2 linked regions of the Homo sapiens genome follow. The protein of the gene in region 1 purifies or fractionates together with the protein of each later gene. This does not show direct contact. Each region holds a gene or a part of one and is shown in the gene's direction. Other genes may lie near its edges.

Evidence for each region. Proteins that work in one complex are often made in the same cells at the same time.
Region 2: the proteins of FZD6 (region 1) and POPDC2 purify together in Homo sapiens (co-immunoprecipitation; one large-scale study listed by IntAct). This does not show direct contact.

The regions. Positions count from the first base shown.
Region 1 is NC_000008.11:103,326,398-103,329,897, forward strand, and holds part of FZD6 (frizzled-6 isoform a precursor), read left to right. Parts: intron 1-1,870; coding exon 1,871-2,019; intron 2,020-3,257; coding exon 3,258-3,500. UniProt on the Homo sapiens protein: Receptor for Wnt proteins.
Region 2 is NC_000003.12:119,643,590-119,647,089, reverse strand, and holds part of POPDC2 (popeye domain-containing protein 2), read left to right. Parts: intron 1-3,500. UniProt on the Homo sapiens protein: Important for the maintenance of cardiac function.

The DNA.
Region 1 (3,500 bases):
GGCTGTGTCTTAAAGTGATCCTGCTATATTAATAATGACTCCTAGTTTCCTCAGTCTTTTTGGCAAGGTTGGGGAGAGGAAACTATTACATATTATTAAAAAGTTTAAGATCTATGGTTTTCAAGTTTAAGATCTGTAGTTATTATGTTTTATGTAAGAAACTGTAAAATATAATAGAATTAGAAAATTATAATCTTCAAGTGGAGAAGGATATAATATTCCTGTAGTTGTAGAAATTATAAAAGATTGCTAAATTTGACTAAGTAAAAAAAAATTTTTTTAAAGATTCTGCGTGACAAAAAAAAACAAACAAACAATCCATAATCAATGTCAAAAGACTAACTGGGAAAGTTTATTTGCATATGACATCATAGCTGAAAGGCTAATTTCTCTAATTTATAAAGAGTTGCTACAGATCAATAAGAAAAAAACCATCCATCTGATATAAAAATGAGAAAAGAGTAGGAAAAAGGTTCACAGGAAATAAAAATGAAAAAACTATTCTTAAACATGTGAAAAAGTTATAGTAAAATAAATGTAAAATTAAAATTAAATTATATTTCCATGTATGATACGGCAAACATCTTAAAGGTGTTCTAACCACTGTGTGGTGAAACAATAAATAGCAAAATACATATTTTCAGACTTTGCTATTAAGAGTTAGTTCAACCTTCTGTTGAAGCAATTTCGCGGTATGTACAGATGTATAATGTGTGTACACTGATACTGCCCTTCTGGGAATTTATAGACAGATTTGCTTACAAATATGAGAAATTAAATAATACCAAGATAGTCACTACAACATTATTTGCAAATGACAATAGATTGGAAGTAAGTATCTATTAACAGGGATAGTAGAATAAGTTATGGTTCACTCACACAATGCAACAGCCTTTACAAAGAATAAAGAGCTCTGGCCGGGTGCGGTGGCTTACGCCTGTAATCCTAGCATTTTGGGAGGCTGAGGAGGGCGGATTGCCTGAGCTCAAGAGTTCAAGACCAGCCTGGGCAACATGGTAAAACCCTGTCTCTACTAAAATACAAAAAAATTAGCCAGGCATGGTGGCGTACACTTGTAGTCCCAGCTACTTGGGAGGCTGAGGCGGGAGAATTGCTTGAACGCGGGAGGCGGAGGTTGTAGTGAGCTGAGATCACGCCACTGCACTCCAGCCTGGGTGACAGAGTGAGACTCCATCTCAAAAAATAAAAATAAAATAAAAAATAAAAGAAATAAAGAGCTCTATTTGTATTGATACAGAATGGTCTCCAAGAAATATTAGTAAGTAAAAAAGGCAAGAAATGCAGAGTATGTAATATCGTGACCCTTGTGCAATGTTTAAGGTTAGAATTTCAAAGTTTATGCCTGAATAAAAAGTATAATTTCAATTCTTAGGAAATTTTCGCATTTTACTGATACTTAATTTACTTTAACCAAGTTTTTATAATATAAATATTAATAACGTATAAAAGCTGTAAAATATTTGTTATGATGAGTTTAAATGTATTTTTGTGGTAGATTATAGTGGGGGAAAATAGGTACATATTTAGAGGCAAATATTCTGGCAATTATAAGAGGCTACTGTATCTATCGAGAAAAAAATGCGAGGAAATCATGCCAAGATTTAGGAGATTATTCTTAAATATATTTCAGTATTTTCCCCTTTCTAGAGATTTGGTACATAAAGTTTCTTTGTTCAGCATTTAGATAAAAAATGTGTTGCACTTAGAGCATGCTTCATTATATTATTTCAAACCTTTTTAGTAAAACAGTTGAAGATTTATAACTTTTGTTCGTTTTATATTGACAATATAGACTTCTTTCCACTTTAAGTGCATCACTGAAAATATTATTATTCACTATTTTTTGTAGGCAAAAGCAAAAGCTCGACCAGAATTGGCTTTATTTATGATAAAATACCTGATGACATTAATTGTTGGCATCTCTGCTGTCTTCTGGGTTGGAAGCAAAAAGACATGCACAGAATGGGCTGGGTTTTTTAAACGAAATCGCAAGAGAGAGTAAGAAACTATTGAATTGTCTGACACAATTTTTAAATAAATAGATCAAAATACCAAGGAACTGTTCAAATCAATGTACTAGAGTTTCATTATATCAACTATTATTTCAATTTGATTTGCCAACTGAAGTTTGGAAATTTTTTTTATGAAAGAGACGTGCTTTATTTTTGCATTTGTTACAATAGTCTTTGACATATACTATTTATCATATAGTATATGTCTGTGACATATACTATTCTATTTGAAATATGAATGAATGATTTATGAAAGGCATATTTTCTTTTCATGATTTATAGTATATCCAGTATTATTACTGCTGTCATTGGATTCATTATTTTGGGTACAGCATTTTAAATAATTTTATCCTTTTTATCAAGGATAAAAGATTAAGACTTAAGTATATATAAAGAAACCTATAAAGTATGATTCAAATATAAGTGATGTGTTATGGTCATTATTTACTAACTTTAAATCTTATTACACACAGCTATGACCTAAACTTTCACTTATTTGTCTTACTTAAGATGTTAAAATTCAAACTTATGGAATATTCTATAACAAAATTGATTTATATTTATGAGTAATTCATTTTAGTTTTATATATATATATATATATGCACACACACTATATACAAGGTACTATAGCTTTTTAAAAATTGTTCCCCATTGGTTTGCTTAACTCATTTCAGAACTGTAGACCATTTCACAAATAAGTTTCTGAAGTCTGAAGAATCGTATTCAACTGGATTTTTTTGCACTATTATTATATGTCTATCTCATATTTATATACTCACACTAATTTCAGTGTAACTTGCTAATTTTTAACGTTAGAAAGAAAAGACTTATATTTAAATGAAGACCGTTAATTATATTCTCTATCCTTTTCTTCTGGTTTACTTTTATATTACATATTTATATATTATACAAATACAGTATTATGTATAGTACGTTTATGCTGTTTTGAGCCTCCTTGCCCTCATCCTTTGATTCTTGCCTTAATTTCTTGCCAGTTTACTATTTATACTGACAAAAGCAACTTAGAGTGTATACACAAAAGATTTTATAAAATCAGTTTATGTCCTAGTATTTATAATCCCAGATTTTATAATATAAACCATAGAATTTTCAACTTTAGTGACTAAGGATTTTTGGCAAAAGATATGTGATATCCTTTATATCCTCTACTTTATAGCCACACTTCTAATTTGAGTAAATCCTCTCCTTCAATTTTCTTATAGTCCAATCAGTGAAAGTCGAAGAGTACTACAGGAATCATGTGAGTTTTTCTTAAAGCACAATTCTAAAGTTAAACACAAAAAGAAGCACTATAAACCAAGTTCACACAAGCTGAAGGTCATTTCCAAATCCATGGGAACCAGCACAGGAGCTACAGCAAATCATGGCACTTCTGCAGTAGCAATTACTAGCCATGATTACCTAGGACAAGAAACTTTGACAGAAATCCAAACCTCACCAGAAAC
Region 2 (3,500 bases), on another chromosome or scaffold:
GAGATGACTGATGAAAGGTTAGAGATTTAGTTTTGTAGATATGGAATTTACAATCTCCTGTGTTACCAGCATCCTTAGAACCATAGTTCAGCTCATTCTGAGGTAATTCCAAGGATCAATCTAACACCCCAGATCACTTTGTTGAGTTCCCCGAAGTGTGCATTGACAACTCTGATCACTCCTTTCCCTCTGTGCAGCTGTTCGCCTTCCTACTCGTTCATCCTGCATCCACGCATGCTCCTTATGTCCTATGGATCCCTCTTGGTCCAACTTGCCCATCCACCTATACACTCTCTCTTCGACTCACAGCAGCTCTCTGTTTTCTCATGTTGTTCTTCCTGGTTTTCTTCTCTTTTCTTGGTTCTATTTTTCTCTTCTTTCTTCTCCAATTTCTTCTCAGTCCTTGATTGCCTCAGTTTGATGTTCTGTTCTTTTTTCCTTTTCTTTCTTGAGACAGGGTCTCACTCTGTCACTCAGGATGGAGTGCAGTGGCATGATGTCGGCTCACTGCAATCTCTACCTCCAAAAGCTCAAGCGATCCTCCCATCCCAGCCTCCCAAGTAACAGGGATTACAGGCACATGTCGCTGTGCCTGGATAATGTTTAATTTTTAAATTTTTTTGTAGAGACAAACTCTCCCCATGTTGCCCAGGTTGTTCTCGAACTCCTGGGCTCAAATAATCCTCCTGCCTTGGTCTCCCGAAGTGTTAGGATTACAGGCATGAGCCACCATGCCTGGCCAGTTTGCTGCTCTTAAGTGTCCATTTTCTATGTCTTCTCAGTTCATTTCTCCCTCTTCACTTGTCTCTTGTTTTCTTCCATTTTATTGTTCATATATTTATCTCTCCTATTACCTCCTTTTTTCTTTTTCCCACCTTTTTTGCCTTGCTGTATCTATTCTTCCTCCTAAACACCCTGTACCCCCATCTTATTAGTTTTTAATCCTAACTCTTCCAAAGATCAGTACTTTTCCCTCTGCCTATAAAGAAAACCATTCAAGTGAAGGTGTAAAATCCCCAGCTTTAGGAATGTTTTCCAAACATCAGGAGGCAGGCAGCATGGTAAATGAGAAAGAGGCCAGGACTGGGAGTCCAAAGTCCTGGCTTCTATGTCTGGCTTTGCTACTAATCAAATATGTGACTTTTTGCAAACCATACCTCACTAAACCTTACTTTCTTCATTTGAGCGTGTTGGACCAGCTGTCCCCAGGAACCCCCTTGGATTGATCTGAGAAGGCAAGGATAAGTTTTTCAAAGGAAGAAAAGAGGAGTAGTCAGTCCGCAGTACAGTAGACACAAGCCCCAGGACATCTGAGTGTCTTTCAGCAAGAACTCTCTGTGATATTTCACTACAATTTCTCTGGCACCTTGGGACTCTCCTCAGCCCTTGTGGTGGTGGGTCTTGTTTAACTAGCAGTTCCCTCCATTCTATGCCTGTGAAGAATCTATCACCTACCATGTGATTACAGTGCAGATTTTTTTTTCCTTTTCCTTTTCTTTTTCTTTCTTTTTTTTTTTTTTTTTGTTTGAGACGGAGTCTCGCTTTGTCACCCAGGCTGCAGCGCAGTGGCGCGATCTCGGCTCACTGCAAGCTCCGCCTCCCGGGTTCACCGCCATTCTCCTGCCTCAGCCTCCCGAGTAGCTGGGACTATAGGCGCCCGCCACCGTGCCTGGCTAATTTTTTCTATTTTTAGTAGAGACAGGGTTTCACCGTGTTAGCCAGGATGGTCTCCATCTCCTGACGTGGTGATCCGCCCGCCTCGGGCTCCCAAAGTGCTGGGATTACGGGCGTGAGCCACTGCGCCCGGCCTACAGTGCGGATATTTTATGAGAGAGGAGATCACAACTCAGTCCCCAAGCCCTCAACCCTTAATACATACTATCGTATGAAATGCCTCTTTCCAAATTCAGCCTTTTCTAAAACTCAAGATGAGAAAACTGCTGATGAGGCTCACTTTCTAAAATACCGGAATTTGCAATATAGGGAGAATAGTTTTTCATGTTTCTTTGTTTAAGCAATAGAGAGAAAGGAAACTTATGTCGTTTACTTTTCAGGCCATAGAGGTTTTCAGAACAACTTGAAAACATGATCAAATTAGCCAAACTTCTGATAGTTTTCAATGTAGTCTGTGATCATGGGATAATTTAGCCTCAGTTCTTTTTCTGAAATTGTGTTTTGAATGTTTGATTTGACTTATTTACCATCAAACTTGCTATAAGGTTATTACTCTAATGAATAAGCATATTCCCTTAATTGGGAGCAATTTACTATTATTTCTTTCATAAAGTAGGGCACCATTCACCATCTATTTCCTGGCTCTTTAGTTATCAAAATGTTAAGCTCATTGCTATTCATCCCGGCACAGCACTTATATGAGAGGCATGAAGCTGGCTGAATTCTGCATCATTAGGAATGACACAGCCTCATCACATTGACACCAGTGCTTGTCTCTCACACCAATCCAAATTAAGACCAACTGAAAATAGTCAGAGTTTCCTCTGGAGCTCCTTTTTGAAGAGACATATGTTTTTTAGTCTGGTGGTACCCAAAATTGAACAAAAAATGGGTGCTGCTTCTCTTAATAGGCAAAACTATGCTGCAGGATAATGTATTCATGCAGGGTCTTCCAGCCAGACCCCAAATCATCCCTCCCTTCACTAGAATTTTTCTGTTTAATTCGATGGCCACTCTCCACAGGGATCCATTCTGTGTCTTATTACAGGAGATGCTCAATGAATGAGGGACTTATCTTCTAGAAATGCAGCTCCGAGGTAGTCTGTTGAGTGAAATAATGAATCCATTATCACAAAATAAATTGAAAGCTGTCTGACATTTGGACAATTTTTATTTTGTTTCACATTGTTCTGAAAACTATACTGTTTCTTTTCTCCCTATTATTTAAATAAGCAAATGATGAACAGATTACAAAATTGAGGACACTCGAGGTAAGGGAAGGAGCCCCTCGACAGGAGGATCAGGACATAGTACCAAGGGCAAGAGAAACGATTCAATAAACACTATTTACTATATATTTTAGGCATGGTTCTAGGTAATCACATGATAAGTAGTTGAAAGAACTGAAAATGTTTTATCTGCAAGAAAAGGGCAAGTGTAATATCTTCAAATTTTAGAAAGAATGTAAATTAGAATTTGACTTAATTTGGTGTAGTTCTTGTGGGCAGAAATTGAATTGAATAGGCTGAAAGTTATAAGAAGGATTTTAGCTCAGTATTGATACTGGATTGCTCATGGGTGGTGAGAGTTACTCATCACTGGAAGAGTTCAAGCAGGGGCCATAAGAAATCTCAGGGATTTTATAAGGTGATTCATGCTCTGGGAAAAGGATGCCTTGGATTATTGTGTCAGGGTAACTTCTAACTCTAGGATTCTGTGTTTCTAAGATCTGGACTCTAGTCTTGCCACTCACCTGCCATCAAGAACATGTTCCTCATCTGCAGGACAGGACCAAGATGGCTCTGTCTACCTTACCGGGTTGCTGT